2 separate regions of the Homo sapiens genome follow, and region 1 is linked to region 2. Evidence: fine-mapped QTL for protein levels in blood plasma. A gene starts in region 2. The other region holds a variant in brackets. All regions are shown on one strand. Distances are from middle to middle. Region 1 overlaps SPOCK3 (SPARC (osteonectin), cwcv and kazal like domains proteoglycan 3). Region 2 holds the start of SPOCK3 (SPARC (osteonectin), cwcv and kazal like domains proteoglycan 3).

The links. PIP is the posterior inclusion probability: the model's chance that the variant is causal. Protein levels are from the aptamer-based SomaScan assay of Sun 2018.
Region 1: its variant is fine-mapped to the plasma level of the SPOCK3 protein (Sun 2018, PIP 0.95).

Annotation. Positions count from the first base shown.
Region 1 is chr4:167,208,756-167,225,505 of GRCh38, reverse strand. The region is part of intron 2 of SPOCK3 (SPARC (osteonectin), cwcv and kazal like domains proteoglycan 3); the gene reads left to right. Among named protein-coding and RNA genes, the nearest start is that of SPOCK3, 17 kb to the left of the region's middle. The variant C/T (reference allele first, on the strand shown) is at 6,798.
Region 2 is chr4:167,226,688-167,243,437 of GRCh38, reverse strand. SPOCK3 (SPARC (osteonectin), cwcv and kazal like domains proteoglycan 3) reads left to right here and starts at 8,944. Exons shown (of 11, transcript NM_001040159.2): 1 at 8,944-8,988; 2 at 9,265-9,453. The coding sequence starts at 9,265.

The DNA.
Region 1 (16,750 bases), 18 kb after region 2:
CAAATATGTAAGGTAAAAGGGTAGGTAAAAAGTCTTCATAAAGTTATTTTTCCCTTGCAGTCATGTCATTTCTCCCAAAGGATTGATGCTTTCCCTAATATTCTTCCACCAGAAGTCATCTGGCCTTCGATTTTCTGCTCACAAGCTGTTTCCTTTATCGAGGAAATAATGGTCTGAATCAGAAATGTTGTCTCCCACCTCCAAATATATATTGCAGATTTTTCTATTTGTAAATTAAGAATAATGGCCTAATAAAAATTTTTATTCCCTCCTTCAGAAATAGCACTATTATATTTCATTAGTTCATTTATTGGTTTTAAAAGCATCATGTTGAATAAATAATAATAATCTTAATCTGTGTGAGGTAGATTCTTCCTGTTTTTATATGTGGCTTGTATATTTTGGAAACTTTTAAGCCATATTATCACTCTTGTTGTAAAACAGAGATAATTAAATTCAGTATTCTGTTTTCATAACTGTTTGATTAGAATAGTTATTGATTATTTAAATTATGCTATTTCAGTATAGAAAAGAAAGTTTTGGATGGGTGTGGTGGCTCATGCCTGTAATCCCAGCACTTTGGGAGGCCAAGGTGGGCAGATCTTGAGGTCAGCAGATCGAGACCATCCTGGCCAACATGGTGAAATCCCATCTCTCCTAAATACACAAAAATTAGCTGAGTGTGGTGGCACGTGCCTGTAATCCCAGCTACTCGCTACTCGGGAGGCTGAGGCAAGAGAATCGCTTGAACCAGGGAGTCAGAGGTTGCAGTGAGCTGAGATCATGTGCCTGCACTCCAGCCTGGCAATAGAGCAAGACTCAGTCTTAAAAAAAAACAACAAAGTTTAAGTACTTTTTTATTGCATTTATCTGTATTATATATCTTTTTTGTTAAGTTTGAACATTTGGTAGCTTGGTTTACTGTTGATTAGGAAATTAATTAGGAAAAAACTTACATTTGGTATACATGGCTATTTTAAACAATCAAATAACGAGTGGCATATACAAAAATTGCTTCTTTTTCCACAGCATTCTCTTAAGCTTTTTTATGTGGATTTAGAATGAACTATATGTTAATGTTTCTATTTTCAGATTGTTATAGCATTTCATCAGTAAAATATCCCACATCTTTATCTACATTTTTGAATATGCAAGGACAAATAAACTCTATTTTAACTTTTCCATACTATTTTTTCATGGATTCCTCTTTTTGTCCTATTTTATTCTCTGAAAATTCCAGCTAACTATGGTAATTAAGTTTAAACACAATGTCTTTAATAGTGCACTAAACATGTATATAGTAAGCAAGATGACAAAGATAATAAAAATGAAAAAATATGTGTTAGAAAACTATGATGTCAGAATTTATAAATACAACTTTATTAGATATTTGATGGAAATAATTTTAAAATCTTTTAATTTAATTAATGGCTGTTTTCTAACCAAATTACTTTTAAAAATAAGTTAAATCCACAAATAGTCTGTATTTTATATATGAATAGGGTACTCAAAATTTGACTCACTATGGCTGTAGAGAATGATGATGGTAAAAATGCACTCACCCAAAATATCAAATGAGGTAAGTACTAAAAATTTTATAATAAAAATACGACAGACTCTTCCTTGTCTAGAAATTGATAATAATATAATAATAACAAGCACTTTAATACAGCATATCACATGCAAGGAGTATTATAAGTTCACTTTTAATTTAATTTTTTAGGAATAAGGACTGGCTATATTGCCCAAGCTGGTCTCGAACTCCTAGGCTCAAGTGATCTTCCTACCTTGGCCTCCTCAAGTGCTGGGATTACAGGCATGATTCACTGTGCCTGACTAGTTTTTAAAAATGTATTAATTAGTAATATCCCCATATGGAATGTGCAACTGTTAATCCATTGTGCAGCTGAGGAAACTCAGGGCCAAGATCACACAGCTAGTATCAGTCAGGGCTCTCTCCAGTAGTAGAATTTTGGCTCTAAAGACTTTGTCCTTAAACACAGAAGAGTAATGCTTCTTCATCTGTTAATGCTGTTTTGGGTCTGTGTTATATGCTAGGCACTTTAAATATATTATCCCACTTTAATATATATCTCTCTCTATATATAATATAATATCTCCCTCTATAAATATATATTTATATATAAACATAATATACATAAACATATATAAATATATATGCTTATATATGATTATTCATATTTATAAATGAATATATAAATACATATTTATAAATGAATATATACATATATTTATAAATGAATATAAAATATATTATATATTATATATTCACATATAAAATATACATTATTCATATATAAAATATATATTATATATTCATATATAAAATATATATTCATATATAAAATATATATTCATATATAAAATATATATTATATATTCATATATAAAATATATATTCATATATAAAATATATATTCATATATAAAATATATATTCATATATAAAATATAATATATTATATATTCATATATAAAATATATATTCATATATAAAATATAATATATATTCATATAAAATATGTATAATATATATTATATGTTTACATATTTATATATTCATATATAAACATATCTATGTTTATATATTTATATATTCATATATCAATATATATCTATGTTTATATATTTATATATTCACATATCAATATATATCTATGTTTATATATTTATATATTCATATATCAATATATATCTATGTTTATATATTTATATATTCATATATCAATATATATCTATGTTTATATATTTATATATTCATATATCAATATATATCTATGTTTATATGTTTATATATTCATATATAAATATATATCTATGTTTATATATTTATATATGAATATATAATATATATCTATGTTTATATATAAATATATAACATATGTGTATATATTATATATTCATATATGAATCTATAACATGTATATATATTATATATTCATATATGAATCTATAACATACATGTTATATATTATATATTCATATATTCATATGTAATATATATGTTTATATATAAATCTATATAATTTTTAATTGTAAAAAGCACGACATAAAATTTACTATATTAGCCATTTTTAAGTGTATAATTCAGTAGTGTCAAGTATATTCACATTGTTTTGCAACCAGTCTCCAGAACTTTTTCATTGCAGAACTGAAACTTTATACTCATTTAACCACATCCCATTTTGCCCTTCCTGCAGCCCCTGGTAACAACCATTCTACTTTTTGTTTCTACGAATTTGACTACTTTAGATATATAGGTGGAACAACAGTATTTGTCTATTTGTGACTGGCTTTTGTTAGCATAACATCCTCAAGTTTCATCCATGTTGTGGCATGTGACAGGGTTTCCTTTTTCTTAAAAGACTGAATAATATTCCATTGTATGTATATTTTACATTTGTCCACTTATCTGTCAATAAAAAACCTTGGGTTACTTCTACCTCTTTGCTATTGTAAATAATGCTGCTATGAACATAGGTATGCAAATATTTCTTCAAGATCCTGCTTTCAGTTATTTGGATATATACTCAGAAGTGGAATTGCTGGGTCATCTGATAATTTTGTTTTTAATTTTTTTAGGAACTGCCATACTGTTTTCCGTGGTGGTTACGCTGTTTTACAGTCCTACTCACAATGGATAAGGGTTCCAATTTTTTTGCACCCTTGCTAACACTTGTTAATTTACATTTTGTTGTTGTTGTTGTTAGTAGCCATCTGAATGGATGTGAGTTGATATTGTGGTTTTGATTTGCATTGCCCTAATGATTAGAAATGTTGAGCATATTTTCATATAATTGTTAGCCACTTGTACAGCATTTCTGAAGAAATGTCTGCTCAAGTCCTTTACCCATTTTTAATTGGGTTACATGTTTTCCTTTTTGGTAAAATCTTTTAACAATCATAAAAGTAGAGATTATTAATCTTCTTTCACAAATAAAGTGACTCAGTATCAGCAAGCTTAATCAACCTGCTCAAAATCAGTGAAGTTTGAAACGACTTTCTAACTCTAAAGACCATGTTTTTTTAAAATTAACAGTTGACCACTTTAAAACAGTTACTACAGACAGCTCAAATTGCTTTTTTTGTTGTATTATATTATATTATTTATTTTTTAAGAGACAGCAATTTGCTCTGTTGCCCAGGCTTCAGTGCAGTGGTGTCATCATAGCTCACTGCAGCGGGAAACTCCTGGGCTCAAGTGATCCTCCCACTTTCGCTTCTCAAGTAGCTGGGACTACAGGCATGTACCACCATGTGTGGCTAATTTTTTTTTTTTTAATTTTTTGTAGAGACTGGGGTTTCACTTTGTTGCCTAGGCTGGTCTCAAACTCTTAGGCTCAAGCCATCCTCCCGCCTCAGCCTCCCAGAGTGTTGGCGTTACAGGTGTGTCACATTGTGCCTGGCTTGGTTTTCTATCTTTTGACATAAAGTTGGTCCTTTTAAACGGTCACATTGACTGTCTATTTTCTTACCTGCTAGACCAAGGAATTGATTAAGGTTTGCAATTTGTATTAGAATTTATTGTCCTTTATACAGAATCACCATGATCTTGCTATAATTTGATCAGTATATCTTGAAGCTGCAGTAGGAAACTTCTAGTTGCCTGTCCTTCATTAGTCTTACAAATGTCAGTAGTTTCAAATCACATACTGTTCAAATAGTAATGTTTATCCCTACAGAGGTACTATATTTGGCAACAGCATATTACTGGCATTTTTATTACTGACCTTTTTTGATATCAAAGTGCAGGTCTGAATATCTTATGTGGTCAGAAATAGCTGTTAAAAGAAATACTAGGCTGGGTGGGATGGCTCACGCCTGTTAATTCCAGAACTTCCAGAGGCCAAGGTGGGAGGATGACTTGTGGCCAGGAGTTTGAGACCAGCCTGAGCAAAAAAGCCAGACCTCATCTCAGCAAAAATGAAAAAAAAAAAAAAATTAGCTGTGTGTGGTGGCACATGCCTATTGTCCCAGCTATTCAAGAGGCTGAGGTGGGAGGATTGCTTGATCCAGGAGGTAGAGGCTGCAGTGAGCCGTGATCACACCACTGCACTGCAGCCTGGATGGCACAGTGAGATCCTGTCTCAAAAAAAAAAAAAAAAAAGTTCTTACAGTATCTGTTGTTTGGATTAGAAGTTTAACATCTTCAGAAGCTGTTTTTTAAGTGTTACTGTGCCTAATTTTTAATTTCTACAGTTGTGCCACCACCCCCTCCTTTTCTTGGCTGAAGAGAATTTGACTTCTTCCTATTATCAAATTATGTAAAATGGAAAAAGGAATTATTTTCTTTAATTAAATTCTAGGATTCACAACTTACTATCATACGTAATCAACATACATATCATTTGTAATACAACATAAATGTAACCATTGTTGACTGGGTTCTGAGAAAACCAAGCAATCTCTGTCCTAGTAGAAAACATAGTTTTCTGTTTTCCATGTTGAATATCAAAGAGAGATGTAATGTTATTGACTTAAAAAAATGAAATCCTATCATATATAAGATAGGTTGGAATATATGTAAGTTTTTAAGAATATTTTGTTGTCTACATATATTTTGAAGTCCTCTACGTCTAGAATTTCATTTAAGATATTATGAACAATAACACTGAACATGGGTTCTGTTTTGGAGATTTTAGCAAAAAAGCAAAATTAATTTGCTGCTACACTGAAGAAAATATAAATTTGAGTAAATTAAAATTCAATGATTTCTGTAATTTATTTTTAAATTACAGAGAACTTAATGCCAAATTTTATACTAAGTATGTGAAATAAATGGTTATATGGAATATTCTGTAACGAAAATTAAAATAAATCTTTCAGTCAACTTGAAATCTTTATGTTGAGTGTTCTAGATAATTTTGTGAGTTCTTTATTCTTAGCATAAGTAAAAGCTCATTTAACAGGAATGAGAAAGGAACCAAAAATGCCAAAACTCAATCTAATTAATTGTCTTCTGATATGTAAAACATTGCAAGACATTGTGCGCCTGAATACTGGTAAAACATTAGATATACCTCCTAAAAATAGTAATTTGATAGTCCGTTAATCACAGCTCACTTTTGCTTTTCTATTACCAAACTACTTTGTGACTTTCAAAATATTTACATAGGGTACAATAGGCAAGATACTCTGAAATACGAGCTTGCTAATTGCCTTGGCACATGGTATTAGCATCTGCTGAGAATCGGTTTTAGAATATCAAGACAATATTTATAGCCTTTCATGGCATACAGTATAGTGTGAAATTATAGACAACCTCCTAGTCTTCCAGTAAGGCTGCCTGAGGTGCCCTTGGCAACATCTGATATTCTCCTCGGATGTCCCTGAGGCAGTCAGATTCATCTAAAATGAACAATCCCTGAGGCAAAACTTTTCTAGAACATTGTATCAACAGCATTAACCTAGTATTACCTGAGACATTTTTCCTTGACATAAAATATATTTTTTTGGAGTTGAGATGTTATACACTTTATAGTTTTAAGAACTATTGTACTTACTGAAACTGTGAATTAAAGGCACACTCCACACTGATAACTAGGGAAGTGCTAGTTTGGAAGCTGTGAAATTTGAAAGTAACTCTAGGCAAAGGAGCATTCGTACATAGACCACACACTTAGTACATTATCCTTGGAATTTCTTTTTGATTAAATATGCTAACTTTCTTTGCTAATGTTATTGTCATTTAAAATTGTTTATTTCAGAATTTAAAGTTTTTTTGTCTTTCGTTTACATATTTTTCTAGATAAAAATTTTTTAAAATGGGAAGGTGGT[C/T]TATGGGGAATGACATGTTTAATTCAGATAACAAATTAGTGGTCAAGATAGGAAAAAATATCCCACATTTGTTTTTAGGGACTAAAATATATTAAAAACTTTTTAAATGTATACCATGAACCAAGTTTTGAATAAGTTTGAGAAGCATAGGCAGTTTTTAGGTCAGTGAATGAGATCTGGACATCTAATTTCAGAACTGCTTTGTTTGCTTTGAGTCACTGAAAGCTACCTGGCTTTGCTACAAGAAGTCTTATGTTTATTCTTGGGAGGAGTGCCTCTTTATTGAATATGCTGTTTGCTCTAATGTGTAGGTTCTAGAGGATCTTTGGCATCAGCCTCAAAGGTGACAAAAGCACCCCTGGTGCTAGTTGCTACTCTTGAACTAGGATCAGAAGTCAAGTAAAACGTCAAAACATCATCTGAGGCCAAGTTAATGTTTACTGGGGATCTCAGACACTTACTTTGCTATTAACACACGATTATTTTTTAGCTAAGGGCAGTTCCCTGACTTCTAATTGTTCAGCCTGTGTGCCCCTGAATAGCTTTTAAGTGCTATTCAGAAATGTGCCATGTTAGAAACATAAGAAAGCTTGTTCTTGTAGCAGTAGTTCTTGTAAGTGGTAGGTAGTTGCGTGATTTAGGAATTGTAATTAAAAAAAGTTTGTTCTTAGTTATTGGACTTTCATAACTTAATTTTCACCTTTTTATTTTTGGACTATACTGTGATGTTTCTGATTTGTGTTTGTTGTTTGCTAAAACCCTTTGGTTTGTGGGTTTAACTTTTTTTTTTTACTTTAATGAAACTGTATATTTAAATAACTTCCTCCTAGATGGCCTAATAAAAAATCCATAGTAATTTTTATAGCAATGTTGCAATATTTATATCATGTATAGCCATTTAGTATGTGAAAATATGTATTTCAGATTGAGTTTTAAGTTGGGCACATGTTATATTATCCACCACCAAGTTTCTTTCTTAAATAAATATTGGCTAACTCACCTAATAATCAAAATAAGCTGTGTAAAGGACATATTAATAGAATTTTGTATGTTATACGAATTTGCAGTAGCATATTTTTTAGGTTTTTGAAATATTTTCATATACAGTCTTCTCTCAGTATCCATGGGGAATTGGTTCCAGGACACCCCCACCAGGAGAGATACCAAAATCCATGGATCCTCAAGTCCCTTATATAACACAATGTAGTATTTGCATGTAACCTACACTCATTCTCCAATACACTTTAAATTACCTCTAGAGTACTTATAATACCTTATACAATATAAATGCTATGTAAATAGTTGCTTTACTGTATTTTTTAGGAAAAAATACCAAGAAACAACAAAAAAAAACATCTGTACATGTTCAGTAGAGAGGCAACCATCCATTCTTTTTTTCCTCGGTATTTTCAGCCTGTGGTTGGTTGAATGCATGGACGTGAAATTCATGGATACAGAGGGTCAACTGTATTACAATTTTTAACTGAAATAACCTTGTAAATAAAATTGTCCAACTTGTTAAGGATATTCAAATTATTATTTAACAAACTTTTGTTTAATTCTTTTTAAAGTTTACATTCATTAATAAAAGGCAAATAAAGTAGCCACATAAATTTTTTTTCACCGTGTTTAACAAATTGTTTTTTGTTCTTTAACAAAGCCATTGGATAAGGCAATTTGTACATGTGTTTAGTTTGGCAATGTAGTTTATCTCTAGTCTCTGATCTTATTTATATTTATTTTAGGATTTCTCTGTACTATTGTCATTCAGTTATGAGTGTTTACTTTTGCAACATAATAAAGTGTTTCTACATGTATTAAACTGATGCTTTTCCAAAGCTAATCTTCTGGGCCAAAAATCCTTAATTATTTTGGGGCGCAGAAACTCAGAATTTGAGGATATCTATGGTTACTTTTTCAGAAAATACTTAGATATACAAAAAATTGTGTATAATATTCAGAGAATTCACAGTTCTCAGCTGTGATTATTTAAAACGTAGGTAAAAGTGAGCTGTGCAATGCCATCATTTCTACAGAACACAACTCTTAAAGCTGTGCAAAAAAAATTTAAATGACCTTGCAATTACAGGAAGTTTATTATTGATGATATCTTGGACTCTTGTCTTCCTCCTCAGCGTTCCCAATCAAATCGCTTGCATATCCTGTCAGGGTCTTCTCTGCAGTATTTTTCAAATCCAAGACTGTTCACCCTTCTTTGGGCCAGATCCTCATTATCCATCCCTTAGGCTAGTCTTGTAGATAACCTTCATGTTTTCAGGCTTCTCCCTGCCTGCAAGCACCAATAATACTTTTTTGATCAATTATTTTTTTTCCCAAATCATAGTTCTGATCTTGTTCTTCTGTTTAAAATCTTCTATTCATCTTTTAATGTATTACAGAACAGGATTGTATATAGCTGCAACTGTAAGTTGCCTTCCAAAAATCTGTAAACGGTATTTTTTTCGGTGGGATAAACCGCAAACTCCACATAATGGATCAGTTCATATATATGTATAGTCACGTTAGAGGGAGATCATGTGATTCCTAAGTCTACTGGAGACTCTTCAAATATTGTAACATATACTTGGAGGGTGGCTGTTCATCAGAAGAAGTCTGAAGTGAGACACAGAAAAATCATTTACCCAGGCAACATTTGCCAGTACTAAGGAAAGACAGTGGTCATTTCTAACATTACTCTAATGCTCTACAACATGTACAGGTCAAAAATTTTCCTTTCTTCAATTCCATGCTCACCCAGCAAATTTCTGATTTTAATGCAGCTCAGCCTCAGGGAGCAAATGTACCAGTCTTCCTGAAACATGTTTTCTGCTGACAGAACAAGGTTTCTGAGGCTTTAGGGCTGAAGGCCAAATCATGGATGGTGGGAAATTCATCAAGGTAATACTGCAGTGTGAGCTCTTTCACAGGCAGCCAGGATGTTCCTGATGATAGACAGGTCTTACCAGAAGCTTTCTATTCAAACATCAACACCAAACAACATCCACATTTCCTATTCCCAAATCCAAAATCTCTTCACTACCTGCCTCCAAACCATATTTGCTTTCGGATCCTTGTTTCCTCTTTCATGCATTCTTCACACAAATCAGGTATCACCTATCTTCACGCCACATTCACTGCTCTTTCTTTTTTTGTGTCTTCCTCACAGTGAGTTTTTCATCTAGAAAAGGCGGCCTTTGTCCTGTTACGTATCTCATTCTCATTTTTCATGACTTATTTTTATGTTTTCCTTTTTCCATGACCTCTTCCATGATTACTATAGTCACATGCAACCTGTCTTTTTCATGAGTCCCTGAAGCACTTTTTGAAAGGCGGTGTCAGCAGTGGAAAGAGCCGTGTTTCTTAAGAGTTCTGTACCTTGCACTCCAGGAGTGCAGAAGGAATAGTCATAAAACATTCAAATATGGGTAAGTGAAGCAAACTGAAACCTATTCTTTGCAGATCAAGTATAGGAGTTAGTAGTTAGTATAAATACCCCAACCCAGGTTAATATTATTAGTTGATAATACAACATTTTATCTTATTTCTTCTGTAGAAATTTTCTATTGATCCTGGTAGTTACGGAGCACATATTCATTTTTAATTTCTAGACAGTCTTTCCTAAATTTTGATTTTTGCATTTAAACTCTCATTTACTTTACAAGAACACTGTAACTTTTTACTATCATGTTTGAACTACAGTAAATATATATATAGTAAATATATATACAGTAAATATATATATGTATATTATCGAGGGTTTGCCATGGCATATGCAACATGTTTTTGCTCTTCCAAGCAGCCAACTCCTGATCTATGAAAATGTCAACAGTAGGCTGCTGGGTTTCTGCTGTAAGTCATCACATAAATTAGGTGCCCCAAGGTAAGCTTTCAAACCTAGAGAAAGGGTTCTCACTGCATCTTGTCTGAACTCAAACTTTCTAAAAATGAGAAACATTTTAGGTAAGAAGAAACACTGGTGAAATGCTATTAAGACTCAAATGATTCATTCTAAGATTCACCCTAAGATTCATTCTCTGTGTGTAAAATTACAGAAAAGTGAAATTTATAGACTTTATTTTTCCTGGAAAAGCATCTATTTTAAGATAACTTTTAAACCTGATTTTATAATAAAAATGGTAAGAACAATCACTTGGGAAAAACCAAATGATTGTTATTGAGAAGACAAATAATCTAATGTATATTAAGTAATGTGAAGTTGTAGTCATGAATTTTAAAAATGACAGTGTTTTTAGTACCCCAAACAAAATTGAAATCATAATTTCTCGCTAAACTGTTTTTTTCTATTTGCTGATAATGTTATAGTGTTATGCATTCAACTCTGGAGAATCTAAAATACTAATGAGAGACAAGTGGGGTTTATAATCTATGCTATATAGTTACTTAAAAAAGATAACGACAAATATTTTTATAGGTATTTTATTCTTTAAACTACATAAAAACAGTAGTAACAACAAATACAATTCTGAAACCATTACAACTGCTACCTATTGGGTGGTTTCATGATGGTATGCTTTGCTATATTCTTAAAACCTTTTCTAAATTTACATCTTGGAAGACATCCTCAACCAATATAATAAAGGTTGCATCTTTGCATCTACACTCATAAAATCAAAAGCAGAAATGAGGCCTTTGAGAACGTAATTTGGTATCAAATCATGTACTCCAATTGCTTGAATATTACCATAGCATTTTATAGTACAGGATTATAGTGTTTCAATTTTCATCATAATAAAAAAGACAAATATTTAAATCAAGCAGTCTTGTGACAGTACAATAGATTAAGTCATCTGTGTGATGAAATGCCACCTTGACGTTTACAATTTTTTATGGTGACTGCTTATTGGTATTGTGATCTGATATGTTATATATTTTGTGCTCTTTTGTAAAATTTCTAAAGATTCAAGATTCACCATATGTCATCTTTTAGGATTTCATCATCAAACACTGGTAATGCAAGGTAGTTGAATGTATTTATATTGAAGCCTTGATGTTTTGACTTATAATTGGTGTTGAAATTGATCATGGAGGAAAAAGAGATTTCTATTTCCTCCATTATATTTAAATGAATATTTCTGGTAATAGTGTTTATGTTTCAAACTCTAGCTCCATTTTATCCATAAAGTAGCAGATGATATTGGCAAAAAGACAAAATGAAAGACCACCAAAATAAAAGAAAATTTTCTTGTTAAATATTAAAGTTTTCTCACTTATGGGGAGAGTTAATTTTATAATATCACATAACCTTTTTTATAATGTTATCATTAATGCAATTTGTGACATGAAAAAAGCAAGAATATTTAATATCATCAAATAGCAGAAAAGATTTAAAAATAGTTACAATTTTGAATAAACTGTGACCTATCTCTGTGGCATTCTGGCTCCACGTAACACAGAATTGCATCTGTTTTTGCACAAACACAGGAAGAAATTGCACATGTAAACAGTTTTATTCCATGGACAAAAATAAAACATTAAGTTGATTTTCCCTAGCAAGGAACTGAGGCCTAGAAAAGCAACTTTGCCATTTACTTTGCCATCAATTAGCATAGGCTGACACCAGGCCATCTATGCTAAACTTAAACGATTCAATCACATGCTGCCAGTGGCAGTATTAACATTTCTGTAAATAAACGTCTGGAAAATGCTTAGATGTAGATTGTGCTCCAGCATCTTCACTACAGACGGGGTAGTGGCCAAACCAAATGTTCTAAGGTAATTCTTAAAGGCACGTGGACAAATGCTCTATGTTTCATTTGTTTTGTATTTTGTCATGTAGCTTGAAAAATATTCAAAAATCACTCTAATTTTCTAAAATACCTTGACCACACTGTTTCTAATACCCTAGAGTATAATTTTCTAGTGACATTATGTAAGCAAATTGGAAAAATGTACTTTATCAATTTTGAAATGACTCTAAATGTATTTTGAATTGAATGTGATTTCTGTTCTCTATTATGATGTAGTGGGTGGAGAAATGTGTCCCTTGGCTGTTGGTTCTCTGAATTACATTAAAGTTTACTGAGACAGATACAACTTGTGCTATTATCAAAGCAATAGGAATAGAAAAATATGGTTTAGGTTAAAATCATCAAAATTTTCTTGAGTCCAGATTTCTGTCTATATTCAGAGGTATAAGAATAAATCTTTGGCTGGGCGCCGTGGCTCCCGCCTGTAATCCCAGCACTTTGGGAGGCCGAGGCGGGTGGATCATGAGGTCAGGAGTTCAAGACCAGTCCTGGCCAACATGATGAAACCCCGGCTCTACAAAAAATACAAAAAGTAGCCAGGCATGGTGCTGGGCGCCTGTAATCCCAGGTACTCAGGAGACTGAGACAGGAAATTCTCTTGCAACTGGAAGGCGGAGGTTGCTGTGAGCCGAGATCACACCATTGTACTCCAGCCTGGGCAACAAGAGTGAAAGAAACTCTGTTTCAAAAAAAAAAAAGTAAATCTTTTTTAAAAAGTCAAATAAACAAAACAAAACTGTACTGAAAAATCTAAAATGAACACAACACAGAGTGTAGTGCCTTGGAGTAAAGGCATATATTAGAACTGGTTTTGTCATTTATTATGTGTTTGTTTATATTAATAACAACCCTGTATTGTAGGTATTATTGTCATTATTTTCCAGAAAGCCAGAATAAGCAGACAAACAGATAATAGTGGTCAGAGATTTGCCTAATGATGCTGGAGTCAGTATGTTTACACTGTCCATTGTATAGCAATTTGAACAATTTGGTAAATAGTAATGCAAATAGGTCTTGAAGTTTCTGTTTTATATCTGCATAGCTCAGCAAAGGAAAATTGCTTCACTAAAACAATTGATTAAAAGTATGCTTTTGTCTGTTGTTAAAATGAAAAGTACCATATTTACTATGTTCCAATATGTACATGTATTAGTCCTTTTTCATGCTGCTGATAAATACATACCCGAGACTGGGCAATTAACAAAAGAAAGAGGTTTAATGAACTTAGAGTTCCATGTGGCTGAGAGACCTCACAATCATGGCAGAAGGTGAAAGGCATGTCTCACATGGTGGCAGACAAGAGAAGAGAGTTTGTGCATGGAAACTTCCCTTTTTAAAACCATCAGATCTCATGAAACTTATACACTATCACGAGAACAGCATAGGAAAGACCTGCCCCCATGATTCAATTACCTCATAGAGGGTCCCTCCCACATCACATGGGAATTCAAGATGAGATTTAGGTGGGGACACAGCCAAACCATGTCATTCCGCCCCTGGCCCCTTCCAAATCTCTTGTCCTTACGTTTCAAAACCAATCGTGCCTTCCCTGCAGTCCCCCAGAGTGTTAACTCATATCAGCATTAACTCAAAACTCTACCGTCCAAAGTCTCATCTAAGACAAGCAAGTTCCCTTCCTCCTATGAGCCTGTAAAATCAAATGCAAGTTAGTTACTTCCTAGATACAACAGGGGTACAGGGATTGGGTAAATACACGCATTCCAAATGGGAGAAATTGGCCAAAACAAAGGGGCTACAGGCCGCACGCAAGTCCGAAATCCAAGGGGCAGTCAAATCTTAAAGCTCCAAAATGATCTCCTTTAACCCTATGTCTCACATCCAGGTCATGCTGATGCAACTATGTATATTAAGTACATAACATATGTTAATCATTTTTTCTGTCATTATCAATTACATAATTTATAACTTAAGTTGAACTTTAAAAAATCGTTCATTGTTTAGCAATTAAACCACATTTAGATTAAGCATGTTTTCCAAAATATGCAGGATCTATCATTTTCCAGTAAATCAGAAGTGTCTATGCAATAACTGAAATATGTGATCAGATATTAAATTAAAAATGTGTTTGCATATATATAGAGAGAGATACACAGAGAGAGAGAGCCTTCTGCACTTACCTATTTTGCTCTCGAGCTAGTCATATATTTGTATGACTCAGCCTTTAAAAATGAGAATGATATTTGTTTTTTCAGGAAATGAGAGGATTATTATGAATATCAGGCAATCAAATGTATGAGAAAACACTTTAGAAAATAAATTGCTAAAATATATCATTTCAAAAACAAACATTCTTCATCTATATAAAGTTAAAGTCCTTCTTTGCTAAATACACACATTTATCTTTTAATATTTATAGAATTTATATTAAATAATCATTGAGATTGAAAGCATGTCAGTAAAGAGGAAAAGACCTCTTTGTTTTTAAATAATCATGTGTGCCACTTTTAGCCCACTACCCAAGACGTACCATCTCCTCCCTGAAGAATCCTTGTGATAGTTGAAAAGATTGACATGTTGAATAATGATTCAATGCACTGTGACAATGGAAGTCAGATAAGTACATGCAAATTACATCTGTAGTGGGAGGTGATTCAATGAAGGCCTCACAGAGTCCATGACACTCAATCTGTGTTTTGATGAATGAGCAGAGTTTGTTCTTTGAACAGGTGGAAGAAAGCATACCTGACAGGGATCTACACATGCAAAGTTATAGAGGTATAAAAGTACGTGGCATGTTCCATAGGTATAAGAAATTAAATGTGCGTAAACAAATTGTGAATGATAGAGAGTCAAGACAGAGGAGACTGAAAATTGTTAGGACTAGGATCTGAAGTTATTTCCAAAACCTGCTAAGCTGATGATTTTCATAAACAAAGGAGTGCTCCTACAATTGCCTCCTTGACAGATTTTGATGGATATCCACAAAGTCAGAGGAAGACTTTTGCAGTTGTTGCTACCTGAACAACTTGTGATGTCCCCCTTCACTGCCCTATATTTGATTCAAAATAGAAAGCAGAGTGAGAAATTAGTATAAGGAATTCCCATTAAGTTCTGCTTTTTTTCCCATGATGTCTACTTTGCATTATTTTAGAAAAACTATAAATACAAAATTCACTAAGGTTTAAAAATTTTTTTTGTATATTGTAACTGTCTGAGTGTCCCCAGTTGTCTGAGTGTCCCCAATTTGCTAGTGTTCTAAGCACATGCTCCTGCATTCTCAGGTAATGCAGTACACAATTATTGATCTTCTATGTAATGGCTGGTGCATCCATCCACATTTTATAATCTGGCTATTTAAGTGAGAAAATGAGAACTGAGGAAAATGTGTATTCTAGATAGGGCAACAGGAGCTCTTTAAGGAAAGTGGGGATTTTTTGAACATAGGACGTACAAAGACATGAAAGATTTTCTTCTAGCCTCCAAACACAGAAAACATGATTCATTTCCATACCATATCAGATTGAAAAATTCTTCAGTGTTAGCATTGTGAAATATCTTTGAAATATCATTTTTATTTAAAATTTATAGGCCTTTTGCATTTTGTTCCATTCTAGTACTAGTGAAAAATTCTACTCATCCATCAAAACCTAGTTTAAGAATCAAAAAACATATTTGCTTCAATTTAAAAATAATATTTTCAAATATTACTTAGAAAACTGATATATTGGGAGTTCAGGAGAAACCACTACATTTCCAGTAACATGGAACATTCCATATCATGGCACCCAATACAGGAACCCCAGTCCGAGAAGCACAATGTTAACAAAAGCCATTTTACCTTTCTCTTGGCTTATTGAAACTAAATTGCAGATGCCCTTCTGTCTTTAGTGGTGACTCTAGTAGTTGTGATTGTTGTACAGCAAACAAGACAATAATTGAATTATAATATATTCATCCACTTCATTTGTAGATTAAAATGACAAAAAAGATATTTCACTATTAGTGATCTATGTGCAAATACAAATAAATAGTTAACTAGCATATGTAATTTTTGAAAAGAGTGATTGCAAACAAATATAACTCTAAGCTGTTAACAGGATTTTAATGTTTTCCTTATCAAGATATTGTTTTAAGATTCTCATTAGTTGTAACTTTTATAGGAAAGTTTCCTTGCTAAATATTAACAAAATAATCACTATTCCTTTTCACAGATAAAATCATGCT
Region 2 (16,750 bases):
AAAAATTAGCCGGGCCTGGTGGCGGGCGCCTGTAGTCCCAGCTACTTGGGAGACTGAGGCAGGAGAATGGCGTGAAGCCGGGAGGCGGAGCTTGCAGTGAGCCAAGATCACGCCACTGCACTCCAGCCTGGGCGACAGAGCGAGACTCCGCCAAAAAAAAAAAAAAAAAAAGAACCAGGTGGAAATATGGAAATTATAGAACTGGAAAATATAATAACTGAAATAAAAACCTCACTAAGTGGTAGGGTAAAGTTGACCGGGCATAGAATCTGTGAACTTGAAAATCAGTAAACACATCAATTGAATTTATTAAAAAAGTACGGAATCTCAGTGAGCTGTGAACCAATAACAAAAGAACTAACATTTATTTATTGGAGTCAAAGAAGAGGACTCAGAAAAAAATGCTGGCAAAGTACTTGGAAAAAAATAATGGGCAAATACTCCCCAAATATGGTGAGACACAGACCTACTAATTCAAGAGATGAATTAACACCAAATAAATATACCCCCCACACATTCTAAGCTTCTGAAAACTAAGAATAAAGCAAAACATCTTGAAATTGTCTGGAGAGAGAGATTGTGTTACATAGAGAATAACAATTCACATAACAGTGGATTTCACATATGAAACAGAAACCATGGGGCATAAAAGAAAAGGTTGCATCATTTTCCAAGTGCTAAAATAAAAGTACTGTCAACCATGAATTATCTATCTGGTGAAACTATCATTCAGGAATGAAGAAGAAATAGAGACAGTCTCAGATGAAAGAAAACTGAAAACAAGAATCACTAGCAAACCTACCTTTGAAGTATGGCTAAAGGAAGTTTTCTAAAGAAAAAGAAAATGATAACCAAAAATAGTCTTAGAACTTCCTAAAGGAAATAAGAACATTAAAATGGGTAAAAAGTAGGGTAAATAAAATAATACTGTTCTTATAAGTTAAATCATATTTGATGGTTGAAGCAAAAATTATAATGCCATTTAAATGTGTTGCCTCATGTATGTAGAGAAAATATTCCAGGTAACAAATGAAGGTAAGGTCTTTTAAGTTTTGTTCAAAGAGGTAAAACCTCAATATGAGAAGTTAAGTATGTATATTTTCTTGTCTAAAATAACTAAGATCTTTGGCCATAAAATAAATCTCAACCAATTTAAAAGAATTGAATCATACAGAATGTGTTCTCTGACCATTTGGAAAAAACTAGAAATTAATAATAAAAAATATAAAAATCTCCAAACATTTGGAAATTAAACAACACATTTCTAAATAACCTATGTCAAAGAAGAATTCTGAAAGAAAACCAAAAATACATTGAACCGAATAAAAATGAACACAAAATACATAAAAATATGTGAGGTGAAACTAAAGCAGTGCAGAGAGGGAAATTTCTTCCACAAAATGCTTATAATTAGGAAAAAAGAAAATTCCAAAATTAATAACCTAATTTCCTACCTTAAGACATTAAGAAAAAGGGAGCAAAATAACCCAGACAAGCAGAAGGAAGAAAATAATAAAGATTTTTTTAATTAATAAAATTGAAACCAGGAATATGTTAGGTTGATGCAAAAGAAATTGAGGTTTTTGTCATTAAATGTCATTAAAGGTAATGGGAAAAACTGCAGTCACTTTTGCACCAATGTACTAACAGAGAAAATCAATAAAACAAAAAGTTAATTTATCAAAAAATTAAAAAAAATCATAAAACTCTAGCAAGACCAACAAAAGTGGAATGAAGAAACAAATCACCAATATTGGTAATAAAACGGGCGCTATTACTACAGATCATGCAGCCACAAGAAACATGTGAAGAGAATGGTACAAATAACTTTACACTCGTAAGTTCAAAGACTTGGGAGAAATGAATCAGTTCCTCTAAATCCACCCACTACCAAGCCAAGATGAAATATATAATCTGAATAGTTCCTATACCAAGTAAAAAATTAAATTTGTTATTAAAAACTCCTTTAAAAAGTCAAGAAAAAATACCTCAATTCACAGTACAACCCGAGCTAAATTGAGCTGTGTCATTGTTGATTGCAACCCAGAGCTTGATTAGAAGAGTAAACTTTTAAATTATTGTTGCCTGTTTAAAAAATTGTAAGAGCAAAAATATTTTACTTATTAAAAAAAACAAAAGAGGAGTTTGCATTATTGATCTGTGCTATCCCATGTGTATTTATGTTCTAAAAAGTAAGACAAGAATTTGCTTGATTCACAGGGGAATTCTCTGAGCATCAATGAGCACTAGAAAGCTTTCCAGGCAGCTAAGTGAGGCATATTAGATTGAAAAACACTTCAAAAACATTATTTTAAGAGAGATATTTTTTCGCTTCAACTTTTCACTTAGTGTTATACACTCTATTTGTGTCTATATATTAACATTTTAGATAAGGAAAAACATTATTGTGAACATCATGTCATTTCACATCTCTCTGATTTTATCTACCTTCTTCCCTCCACAAGACATGTTATTTTTACCACTCTTTTTCTGACTATTAAGGCTTATTTTTCAAGGTTCACATCTTGTCTCTTAAATGACCCCTTTCTTTGCTCCCACAGTATCCCCTGCAAGTCTCTGGTAGAAATCGGTTACATTTGCCATCTTTGATCCTGCCATTGGTGAAACAGTGCTCTAATCTTCTGTTCTTTGAAGAACTAGTCCCTCTCAGACTTACAAATCAAAGATTTGGTAGAGACTGTTTCCTATCACTGCTTGAGTGTTGGGTTATCACTGTCCACTTCTCATCATCTTTGCCACCAGGGATTATTTTAGGGTTGGACATGTAACCAGATGAAAACCAATATGATACAAGGTCAGAACTGTTAAAGCTTCCAAGGTGGAGGAACTCTTCTTTTCTTGTGAATGAATTTTAGGAAAAGAATCTCTCCCTTTTCCATAATGTGAGATTTGTAAGTGCTATGCCATTGTTTAAGGCACCTGAATTTGGAAGGTTGAAGTTTCATGTTATAAAGTCCACTGATTGAACTGGCACATGATGGAGAAGCTCACCAGCTTTGTTTGAGCTGTTTGTCTGAGGTCAAGCCTACCTGTCAACTTTTTATTTCTATAGGACAATACATTCAGATTTCAGTGCCCTCATTAATTCAGGAAGAAACCTGCTCCATATATTATCTATCTTCACTCATTGTACTCTAATTAAATTATTAAATTATGTGTTTTTGCTCACAAGAGTGTGAGAGATCATGTTTCAACTTAGCCACATTTTTTATCCCTAGTTTGAAGCTTATTGTATAACATTTAGAGAACAATCAATAAACATATTTAAAAATTGTTTCACATTTTAGTTTAATTTTTAAACTAAAATTAAACTAATGCCTGTTAAAGCCTGTTAACATCCTATTCCTTTCCTTACTTTCATTTATCTTGTAGAAAACGGGATGCTTGGCATGGTATGTATGGACAGTAATCTTAACCTTATACTCCTTCTTAGTATGACTGCCTCACATTAAGGGAACTCTCCATTTACCCAAGAGGACAGAAATAAGTGGCATGAATTTGCAATAGCACTTGGGATAGTTTTTATCCTCTGAAAATAGCTAACCCATGGTAATTTAACAGCGAATGATATATAATGCCCGTTTTGCACTGGTCAGCTAAAAATAAACAAACAACAACTTACAAAGATAAACATAGAAGGTTCTTTGTAGATCTTGACTATAGAAACTCTATAGCCATTTTAGAACAATATACCTTACTCAGCCAAGTAGAATTCTGAGTCAAAGAATAAACTGGCTCCCCATATATTTTTATATTAAGATCATTAATAAATATGCAGGTTTAACAAAATTTTAAAAACACATTGGTATAAATCTCAAGAACCGAGGTGTTTTTAGAAACCTTTTTCACATGCAAATTTTTAAATTTAATAGTCTTAATATAAGAATGTGTGTCTTTCTGTGCATGGGCATAGAGTGAAATTATTTTTAAAATATTCTTAAACATTTTATTTTATCCTTTTTTGTGTCAGTGTCTCATAGCCCTCAGGAAAATTTAAATATTTATAATTAATGCTCATTGAACTTTTCAGAAAGTCTTTATTTTACAAAGTCAAAACATATATCTCAATTTAAAGAAAACACAAACTTTAATTGCCTTATTGGCCATTTTCCTATCATCTCCTTAGTAATCAGTTAATTCAGTCAGTTTCACCCTATGGTTTAAATGTTGAAAAATACCTTTTTAAGAATTATAGTAATTGAACTGACTAATGAGTTTCCAATATCTACTACAGCTGTTAAAGTCTGTTTATCTACTGAATGTTTTAGATTAAGTTAAATCACAAGAGGTCCTGTTTATCAAATTAGGTACCTAATATCTTCCAAGTTTGCTTCAGTGGGTTCATCTCTAAAAACAAAGAAACAAACGAACAACAACAAAAGTCTGTTAACATCCTATTCTAGAAATTCCATTCTGGTTTTGTTTGTTTTTGATATCCTCAATGCACATACTAGTAATGGTGCTACTTTCTATTAAATTAAGAACACACGATTTTTAAGACTTACAAGACTTCAGTAAACACAATTCCAAAATGAAGACATAGAGTGTTCCTTCTTGACATCATTTTATGACGTCTTTAATTTACTCCTGAGTTTTTAATACCCAGGGTTTTCCTTCATTTTTTTTCCTCTTTTATATGCTTAATTTAAACTCAAAGATGGATTTGGTATAAGGCACCATTCTAGATGGTTGACTTTTATATATCAGGTATTGTTTCCCTAGCCTTATAATGAAATATTTCAGAAATGGCCAAATTTTGTTTTTAGGTTAACTCATATATCATTAAACTACAGCTTTGGGTGAAGTCAGACACTTGGAAATCCCTTAATGCACATGTCTCCTTACCTTCCACCAGCTGGGAAGGTAATGGGAAGCATGTATTCCTACAGGGAAGACAAACAACACTTGCTTGATTGGCAAACACTTTTGCAATAAGGAGAGAGAGGCAGTCTTGGTTAATTCTCTTCTCAGCCAACCAGTCGGATTGCCTGCTGGGCTACTGGCTTGATGCTGCTGAGATGAAAGATTCCAGTGGACAGGGTCATCATTTGAGTCAGGGACTAAGGTGCTCATTATACAAGTGGAGCTGCTTCTGCCTAGCTTAGCAAGCTCCCTGAAGTAGCCATTCTCTCTTTTCCTGCCTTTAATTATAGATGAGTCCTAGCTCTTACTGAAATAGAGATAGATAAATAAATATGCAACAGGTGGAGAAGGAAAGATATGGGGGCAGAAGAATTAAAGAGCATAAACAGAAGATGATTCAGAGATATTTCTACATAGAGAAAAAATATCTAGAAACAAAGTAGCTTGATCATTCTCCAGAACTTTCCTTTGCACTTAGTAGCTATAGGATCTTAGGCAGTGAAGGCTAAAAGGTATCATGCATGTAAATTGCCTGGCTCTGTGTGTGGCACATGGAAGATGTGCAATAAATTGGACCTTTCCTGCATATCCTCATGTTGGTTACAGATAATGGAGTAGCATGCTTTTATAGTTGTTGGGGAAAAAAATAACCTATGAAAGACCACACCGTGTGTGTGTGTGTGCACGTTGTGCACGCATTTAAATAAATGGAGTTATATGAAGGTCATGGATCCAACCTCAAAGGCGGTTAGAAATGGACCAGCTGTCATTATATATGCTTAGCATTTTTATTTCTAGAGCTGTGTCATGTCTGAAAATGAGGGTAAGGAAACCTTCAGAAGAAATACATTTAATTAAAATAATACCTATCAAAAATGTTCCTTACATCTTTCATGATAGATATTTGTGGACTGATTTACTGAACGTTTAGAGAGAAAGAACAACTAAAGGGACAAATACACAAATATGAAAGCAAAGTTCAATCTAGCAGTGGCCTCAGCATTGGCTTTTCATAATGTATCTAAACTATGTTTCTGCATCAGGTGGCAGAATGACAACAAAGGGGCTGGGAATCTGAAGCCCTGTGTCTTGCTCTGAGTTCCAATTTTGTAAAGCATGATCTGAAAAATAAAATCAAGTCCCAGCCCTGGCACCAGCGTCTCACTTTACCCACCTCATATGCTGCACCCCACTTTCTGCGTTTTTGGCTTCTCCAGTTTTTTAGACTGGCTCTCCATCTATCTGGGAAGCAGTCAGTGAAGTATTTCTTGTCTACTCACCTACCTTGACATACAAGGCTCCTGACTACTCTCTTCCAATATCTTACTGCCCACCTAATACTCTTCCCTTATTATTCTCTGCTGTGTTTTGCTCTCAGCAAGCTTTCAATGAATCCCCACTGAGGTGATAACTGATAACCAAGGTGTTAACTGAAGTGTGAATTCTCCTAGGATTATTTAAACCTTGAAAGCAGGCTGTTTGAGGACCAAAATATTGATATATAGAGAAACTGATAGAAACCTTTCCCTGTGATTAATAACATCACAACATCACACCTACTAGACTTTGACTCTCACTACCAACATGCCCACTTAGCCTAGACAATGGCAATGGCTTGGAAAGAGAAGCTTAAGGAGCTGTAGGAGCAGTCAGGTGACTGGACCACACCAGGCCAACACAAATACACTGTAGACAGGCTCACTCTGCCTCTTTTGACTTTAGAATTTTAAACTTGCAATTTGCTAGTAAATCCTACTCTATCTTCAGATCTGTAGTTTAAAACCCTATCAAAGGCATTTCTCCCAAGATGAATTCAACTGTCATTGTTTGTTTTCAACAAATTTCACAACTTGGAGACGTCCCTGTGGAGCTGCAGTATGGGAAGCTGCCAGTGAAAGCTAGATGTGAAAACATGCTCTGAACATTGGAGAGTCAGCCACAAAATAGACGTATTTGGGGGGGAAATGCTGTATAAACATAAATATATGTGCTTCCATAAATCTAAAGGTGACCATGTTGGCCTTAGATGGTGCCAGTTATTGAGCTAAAATGTATAGCAGATGCTGAAGGGGATGAGTGTTAGAGCATTATTCCTCATCAAGTATTTTGTAGCTAATAACAACTATCTTTTTAAAAGGTAAGTTACAAAGGTTAGAAGGTCATTTTTACTTTTAGAATTACTGACTTCTGCCAAGTATCAGTTTCTTGTAAGAAACAATTTCTGTGCTTTCCCTATTAGACTTAAATTTAGAAATAATGAGGTTTTAAAACATGATGAGATATTCTTATTAATAATAAAGTATTTCTTCAAATTTTGAGGAAGAGAGCTAAGGATGAGAGTGTGGGAGGTCAAAGGACCAGGGGTCAGGAAAAGGTGATAGTGGAGAATGGACCACCTACTATTGTCTTAATAAATTTACTAAACAAGAATTTAAATATGTAAACTACATGGTAATAACCCTCTGTGAACAGGCAAAAATAAATATCTTTGAAGAATTAGCACACATCTATATTCTTAAAGTTTTCTGACATTTGTTCGTGTCAATCAGGGCTCCCATGAATTGCAGTAGTATGTTCCGTGTTTTTCTCCACTAATTGCATTCATCACTGTAGAAATGGGGGGAATTGAGAAAAACATCTTTTTCTGAGTTAAAAATAGTAATAGAAATTTCTTTCCTATATAAATATTACACTTATATTTCCTACCATACATATTATACATTTATTTTGAAATATTACATTAAAAAAGGAAATTAACATTAAACATTGAGTTTGGTCGTTTTGTTAATATAGATTGCAAAATGTTAGACGAGATTGATATGGAAAATGTGTACTGCTGCTATTCGAATAGCTTCTGAAGTTTTGGAGGCTACAAGAAATGTTCAAAGGTCGTAGCTTTGGGAGATGTAGTTTTGGCTGAAATCTCTAATAATTCAAATAGAGATTCATAATGTTATTGCAGTCTATTGGCTTGCAGACATTTCTTGATTTATGTGTAATATTCACTTCACCTAAATTCTCTAAATATGAGAGATTCTCTGTATCAGATTTTCTCTACAAGGGGCTAATTACTGATTTCCTTCCAGTTTATTTAGAATATGTAGAAACGACATGGAAAGCCAAATATTTTGTCATAAATGGAAGTTTGGAATACAAAATTGGTGTTCGGGCTTCAAAACTGTCTTATTTTGCAGGAGGGAGACAGTAGGCTTTTAAAGTTTCCGATTCAGGTTCTACGTTCTAAAATAAAGCTGCCAGGGAGTTTTTATAAAGGGAAAAATGCAGCTACAGTATGTAGGAGATATAGGTGTTCTCAAACGCCCTACCTCGTTATGCTTCTGTCTCTCAAAACAAAACACACACACACACACACACACACACACACACACACAAAGGAAAAGAAAAAAAGAAACTGCAACCTTTAACATGAAAGTTTGCTGTCGGTAGTAATCCAGAAGCTCACAGCAAACTTTAAATTTTCTGAAATTAAACAGATCTCCCAAGACCTTGTGGATAGATGGCCTTTCTTTAGGGAGGAGCTGAGTTCAGGAGCTTTACAGGGTAGGAAGTCCAGGTATTCTTATTTATTAATGCATAAAGTTTTCCTCAGATCTTGTTTCTCACGTCTGCCTGACAACCCTGGAAATTGTGGAGCAGAGGCAACTGCGAGAGATAGTACACTTTGTGTTAAATCCAGGAGCAGAGAATGAGCAGGCTGTCTCGCGAACATGAGAACCTCTTCTGGAGGGGAGAGGTTACAAAGCAGATAAGGATTCCTAGGCTAGGAGCTACCTCGTCCTCTGGCTCCAGCCAAGCGTCCTATCCGGAGCCAACTGTAGCTGGGATCCAGCGAGAGGAAGGTGGGATAGGAGGAGGTGGAAGAGGAAAAAAACGGAGGTCGGGGAGGGAGGGGGAACGGAGGGGAGTAAGCTGGAGATCCGCGCGCGAAGGGAGGGTGGAGATGGGGGGAGCGCGCCGGGCGCAGGGAGCTGAGTGGACGGCTCGAGACGGCGGCGCGTGCAGCAGCTCCAGAAAGCAGCGAGTTGGCAGAGCAGGGCTGCATTTCCAGCAGGAGCTGCGAGCACAGTGCTGGCTCACAACAAGGTGATGTGCCAGGAAGCGGTTTTGTGCCCGCTCGGGCTGCTGCGGCTGGGGCTTGCTTCCTTATACCCACCTCTCCTCCTCTGGGTCTGCGTGTGTGTGAGTGCCCGGCTTTTGGGGGTAAAGCCTGCGGGGAGGGGACACGCTTGCCTCTGCTTGTCTCCTCCTCCCTCTACCCTCGTCGTTGCTAATGCATGTTTTCCAGGGTCGCTCCTGGCTTCGTACCCCTTATTTGACACTGACATGCCCCCCCACCCCCCGTTGTGTCTCCTCTCCCAGATGCTCAAGGTGTCAGCCGTACTGTGTGTGTGTGCAGCCGCTTGGTGCAGTCAGTCTCTCGCAGCTGCCGCGGCGGTGGCTGCAGCCGGGGGGCGGTCGGACGGCGGTAATTTTCTGGATGATAAACAATGGCTCACCACAATCTCTCAGTATGACAAGGAAGTCGGACAGTGGAACAAATTCCGAGACGTAAGTTCCGCGCACCCACATCCCCGGGCACACGCGCGCGCTGCTCCGAGGCGGGGGCCGCGGCCGCCGGATGTGGGTGGGGAGTGGGCTCCGTTTTCTGAGGAGAGGGGTTTAGGGAAACGCGGCGGCGCAGGGCTGCTGGAGAAGTTCACAGTTCCGCTGCCCCCTCCCAGCTGGTTCAAGGGCTTGTTTCTTGGATGCACAGGAGTTCAGGTCTCACCAGGTTCACACTCTTCCTCCCCCACCCTGCTCTCCCCTGTGCCCCCTCCCGGCCCACAAAGGTTACAAAGTGCTGGCTCTAACCTCTCAACTTTTGAATGGTGTTTCTGGCACTGGTAAACACAGCAGATGTGCCTTTGCGATGTATCGCTACTAAAGTAACTAGGATCGATCCTGTCACTAATGGTCCATTAAGGAATTTGAGGGAGGAGGTAGGAAGATGTAAGATTTATAAATGCCCGCTCTCCAAGGGTGGGAGGATGTTTGGCGGCACCAGTAAGGACTCGTTGAACGCTCCCGCTTACATAAAATTGTCGATCAGATTTGTGCTTCGACATGACTTTAATCTAGAACATCTTTGCAATGCATTTGATTATATTTTATTCCAAAATGAATCACTGCCTTGAACTCTGCGGGAAGAGGTTGCGAGGGCGGGAGGATTGCAGGTGACAGCGATAAAAGAGTTAAACCATAGACTCCCCTGGGGAGTTTTCAAAAGGGTTATTAAGAGGGAGCCAGGTTTCCACACTTGAAGCTAGTGGCCATGGCTTGCCAGTCATTTTTATTTTCCTCACCTGATCTGAATGGAGCCCAGTAAGAGCTGCTCACGTACAGAGCACGATACAACTGGAAGCCTTGAATTTGGTTGTCCCAGTGAGGAGGCCGCCCTGTTGGCTGAATACCGCCCCTAGCCCACCCTTTAAAACGCGGAAGGCCTGAACTGGAGCGAGAGTGGTTCCTAGACACATTGCCAATCCTTACCGTGACATTTGAGAGAATTTCTCGTGGAGTCCATCTGCAGTGCACTACGTGGAGATGAGTTAACTTCTTTCATCAGCTCCGACTCAGTCACCATTTAGGAAAATAAAAGGGAGCCTAGGCTAGCTTTCATCCTGCCTCCTCTAACCCATTCTCTCAGCCTCTCCATGAAGTAGCTGACAAGCCAAATCTAGCAGAGGGATTCCTGAAGAAACACAAATTTTTACTTTAAAATTAGGTTTAGCCATTTGATTGAGAATATTTAATGGAGAACCTTGCCTACATACTTCATGAACAAAGCTTAAGCATCATTTTATTGCTAAATAAATGCCCTTATAAAAGCATACCCGTTGCATATTTGTTTTAAGTTTACACCAATATTGAGTACAAGCAAAAAGGATAGCGAGTGAGATATTCCTAAACCTAAAGAAAATTTGTTTATCATGCCCTCATTTGGCAAAATCAAAAACAAAAACGAAAATTGAACACTTCATCAGTATTTGAACAGTGTTTGACATTATGACATTTCATTATTTAATGGCTGCTTTAAAATCTTCTAGAAATGAATTTTTGAAAGACCTCCCAACAATGGGATATATTTAGTAGGTAATACTGGTTGCATGCTGTTTTCTATTTGTTTTGGGTTTTTTTTTTTTTTAATAAAATCAACTACACAAGATTCCTCGCTGGGAGAATTGTAAGAGTATTACTATCTTCAATGAGAGCAGAGATAAAAGCTTTCTTCTCTAAAATGTATTTTAAATTTTGAATAACTTAGTATTCTCTTATTTTATTCAAATTACTTTATTAAATTATTGAGGGACTTGGACAGTTTGTGAATGTGTTTGACTTAAACTATTGAGACAAGCTGAGTTGCCTACTATAGAGCTAAATATGCTAGAATTTATGGAGTCAATTTCTATAGAGATGGAGATTTTATTGCTATATCATTCTCAGTTATTCTAGGATCTCAAGGAAAAAGTCCATCAAAATTGTACATAAATTTTAAAAAGGATTTACTGATACATTTTATGCAAATATCTGTTTTGAAGTATATGCAACACCTAAAAATAAATATTGATTTATTTGAAAAACTTTCATCAGGTTTTAGTATTACCATTTTAGTAAGACAGTTATGTTTTTGCAAAGATGACTTCTGGAGGGAATGGAGCGGATAAATGCCATCATTTTTTACCCTTGAACCACCTGTTGCTTATTATTAACATGATGAAAGGTATGCTGACAGTGTGGTTTCTCAAATAATAATTCAGAATGCATAATATATAATCCTTATCTAGACCATCCACCCCACTGCTATTTATGTATATTCTTTCCCTTTTGGGGAATCATTAGCTTAATAATCTTTTCTGTAGCTCTCAGGATGTTATTTTTCAGTTGGTTTTCAGCTGGAAGCACATGGCGATAAGGCATTACTTGAAATAATACTATACTGCATGAATCTACCTTTAAATGTTCTGCATGAGCATTCATATCTCAAATAATGATTTATGTACTCACTTTATATGAGGGCAAAGAAACATGGAATTCTGAACCTCTTATTTGAGAAACAATTTAACTGAAGTACTTTTGTGCTTTTTTCCCATAAAATATAATTAATTTTATTTATACAAAAGCCTTGGAAAGCATCAGCATAATTATTGCTTGGATTAATCCTTATGATTATTTTTTCTTCCGAAGTGACTGTTTTACATAATCAGCACTGTTTAACAAGTGACTCCTTAATGAAAGTTTGAACTGTTCTTTCTTTTGAAATACATTTTAAAAGTATCTTAAATAATATTTAAAAATACAATTTAGCATTATATTTTAATTGAATAATTTTAAAAATAAATGTTACTCTTTATATATTTGTAATATACGTATGTAAATATAATTGATTTACAATAAAGCTTTAGGAACAAAGAGCATGGATAGAGTTACGAGAGAGTAGGTGAGCATAAAAACTACTGCCGTTGAGGCTCATTTTCTTGATTTCCTCAATATAAATGCTAAAGAAGCAATGAAAGCAAAGACAAGCTTACAGTGAATAGGTATTAACACAGGAGAAACAAGCTTGCAATGAGTAGGTGTTAACACAGGAGAAACCTCAAGTATTTTTGACTGCTCTATGCTAGCAATGTCTGTTGAATAAAGTTTGTTACCTTTGTTGTCCTTTTGAAGGACGCTTGGAGTGTACGATGCTTAATGTTATAGACATAAAGAGCTTTCACTGTTTTGAAAATTATTAATTTATTTGGTTATTAGTATAAAAATTCTGATAAGGATTTTAATATCTATGTCTTAGGAAAGCATACAAGTTTCACTTAATCTAAAGATACAGAAAAGTCAACACATTTAAACATAAGTACAGTAGATAGAACCAGCATGCTTTACTTAGGTTATAATTATGTGATTTTGAAATAAAATAAAATAAGAACTCCCTCAACAGTGGTATATATTCAGTAGATATACTGGTTACATGCTGGTTTTTTTTTTTTTTTTTTTTGGTGGGGGGCTCTGTTGACTAGTGATAAAATTAAGTACACAAGATTCCTCAGTGGGAAAATTGTGGGGTACCATTACTTTCTCCCAGAGCAGGAGTAAAGGATTCATTCATCCCATTCTTGTGAATATATTAGGAGAATTGGAAATCAGCATCGTTATGAGGAAACTGAATTATTAGCTCGAGTGGCTTATGTATTGCATATTTCAAATATTTATATTTTATAGTTTAATTAAACCATACCCTTTATCATGTAATAAATGAGTATGGAATTTGGAACCAATGAATTACTTAGTAATGCATGGTATAATAACATTATCAAAATTATCTATTATTGATTTCACTGAAATACATAAATTAATTAGGAATGACAAAAAAAGATAAAATATGAGAAGCCCTCAAATATTGTATTTTGGAATCAATATAATAAAAACTTAGAAAAAAGAGGAATGATGGCCATGCTAATTTTTAAGTAACTCATATAATAAAAACAGGATTGTACCCTTTAATGGAAATTCAAATAGTTCTAGATTAAATTAAATTTGTTTTTCAATAAAAATACCTGGGGCTCATTCTGAACTTTTTGTTTTAAGGAATGGTGACCACTAGTGTTATAGAAACCATAATCAACTTCAGTTTACATTTATTCCTTAAGTGATGTTTAATATCCTTTGGGTATATTTAACGTAATAATAAAGTTCTACAGTTTAACTTTACAGATTTAACCTTAATGTAAGCTAAAGAACATGTAGAATATTGAGAAAATGTAAAATACAGGCTGACATGTCTCAGAGGCACTCAAATTATAAGTTGACTTTTAAAAAATATCTGATTTGTGGGTGTTGAATAGTAAGCAGAACATTCTTAATTTGTTTTTTCTTTTTATTTGCCTTTTTCATCTAAGGTGAGGTTCTTAAGTGCACAGATTATTTAAGAGATAATGGATGATGGTGTGGGATATTTCCTGGAACTTAGTGGGCTACAGAGGGGTAAAGATTCTCGAGGGTCTATCAACTTCTACTGTTGTTAGAAAGTAAATACAACAATTTGTTTCTATGTCTACTCCAAATAAAGTATTCTATGGCTCTACAGGCCATTAAAATTCAAACAATGAGAATCTTTAAGGAATGCTCTCTCAGTACTTTGTTTAGGTTTATGATGTGCCTTGATTATATTTCTTGAGTTACAGGCATACTCTTAGCATTGAGGGATCCTCCTTTCTGGCAACAAAGTTGTGCTATTATACTTTTCAACAATATGTATCAAAAATAAAATTAAAGATTTATTTGTAATTTGGATATATTTAATAAAGTGAACTACTGTTCTCTCTGTTTAAGAATGCTTTCTCAATAATGGATATCCAATTCTTATGAAAATGTACATTTTCAGTGTTTCTCACTATGAAACAACATTTGTAACTGTGGTAATAATTACCTATATTTCACTGTAGTTGAGAACATAGGCATTTCTTGGGAATTCTTCACAGTTAATTGAGTGCATTATCATGAGTGTTTTTCTCTCTTTCTTTTGCTTTTTTGGTGATTACAGGCACTGGGTTTAGTTCTTAAAAGCTTGTGAATATAGTGTATATATTTGCAGATCAGAGCTGGTGAAGACTGTAGCATGCAGTAATATTTTTATTGGACTATTATTCATATTGTTTAAATCATGGGGAGATTTAATGGAGAGAGGCAACTGACCTCTTAAGAGAAGCAATAGGCAATCTTTGATGATTCTGGGACCAGTGAGTAACCACAGCAGCAAAGGGCTAGGCTCTGGCAGCATCCTGACTCTTGTTTTTGTCATCAGGATCCTAGTTAAGCCGTGATCACAGCACAAACTCCACACTCCTATTTTTTAAACCTGCTACTACAACCACTATCCTGCTTGCCAGTCAGGATTTAAGTTTGGTTTTGTCATCAGGTTATCACATGACGAAGGAAGGCAGGTCAGAGAATGTCCACTGATCTGCTTGTTTCTGAAGGGAATCTTAGCTAGAGCTGGTATCACATTATCAGACTCTGTCAGGAGGTATGAATTGATCACAAAACTTTACTCGATTTTCTATGTGTTTATCCTAACAGAAATTAAAGAGAAGCAAGCAATACTTTTAACCCTCTAGCTTTCATAACTTCCAGTCAATGACTAGAAAAGTGTAACTAAGTGTAAAAGTGTAAGTAAGAGAAACAAATTACTCTATGTATGTTGTATATGTTTATATGTATTTATGTGCGTAGATTCTTGCATAAATGTATATCTACATATATGTGTTATGTGTGTATGTCAAGTTGACAACAGATTAATCTGAAAACAGAGGCAATTATATATTGTGCTATAGGTTTTTTGTATGCACCAGATATGTGTATAGTTATTACACATAACATGTTGAGTAGAAAGCCAACATCCATCTAGCCACCCCCAAAATGTTAAGACATGTTAGGTTTCTTTATTTATTTCTTTTCTTTTCCTGGTTAGGTTTTCTGCATCTTATAACTTGAGATGATTTCATTTACTGTTACATGTGTGGACACAGTGTGCTTTTCTGTTTCTTACAGCTAGTCAGCTTGCTTGGGATTATATATTTAAACTTTTTATCTAGATATACAAAAGGAACATCGTGTACCACTATAGAGCATTTATGTTGCTACTCTGACAGTAAGACTTTGGGGTTGGATGCTTTTAGATCTTATGATTGTGACTCAGAGTGACATTTTATGTTCTCACACAACTTTAGTTTTCATGATCTGGGTCATAATTTTATTTCATTTTATGTACTTATTTTTAAAGGCTGATCTTTGACTTCTGTAAATACTATCCAAGTCCTGTAAGCTCCTGGAGTATTTATATGTCTTTTTTCATTTATGAAAATCATTTCATCTTTTCTATTCTTTCTACCTCTTCTAGTTTACAGATTTGGACACCCCATTAGACTGTGAACTCCCTACAGCTACAGATTGTAGTCTCCCTTCCTCTCCATGATCCTACAACTCACCTAGCATTACCACAATAATTGTCTCAGAGTTATCACTAGAAAATACTTACTAAATGAGGTGACATTATATTCAAAATACATTGCCAATTGAAAAATCCTTACCTAAAGGTTTTTTAGAGCTGTGTTGTCTTTTATTGGCCAGTTCAATTTCTGGCCACCTCAAGCCCAGTTTTGTAATTTAAATAAAAATTCAATTTTTATAAAATATAAAGTTATAAGTATTGAACCACTTTAGTCCTATAAGTTCCAAAACTTGCCAAAATAGAAATGCCGTGTCTAAGCTGTCGTGTCCAGTTTTAGAATGGTCAACAGCAGATGACAATGACATGCATCATGGTGCTCCCTTGGCCAATTAGTTCAATTCTTTTTTCCACAGTTCCTCTTCAACAACATAATTGTGTTGCTCTAACATCTTTAAATATTTTTGCTGCCTAATAGGTAATATCAAGCACTAGCATCTTCCCTTTCTTCTTCAACTACTGAACTTCAATTAATGGTTATATAGGTAAATCCAGATACTTTACTGACAGTTCAGATTTATTTCTTTCTCTTCCACCTCACTTACAACTGCCAATGCGTTGGTTAGAGAGAGGTTAAGTTCCTGCAGAAAGGAGACCCTGAATCAGAGTACCCGAGTAACGATAGAATTCTCTTTTGCAAGCATGAGACCATCAAGAAACGGGTGTCCAGGCCTGGGCTTTCAGGGTTACTCCCTCAAGCAAGCTTCTCTATTAATGGCCATTTCCTATCTAACAGGAGGCGTTTAAGAGAAAATCTAGGACAATCACCTTGTCCTAGAATTCACCTGAAAGTCATCACACATT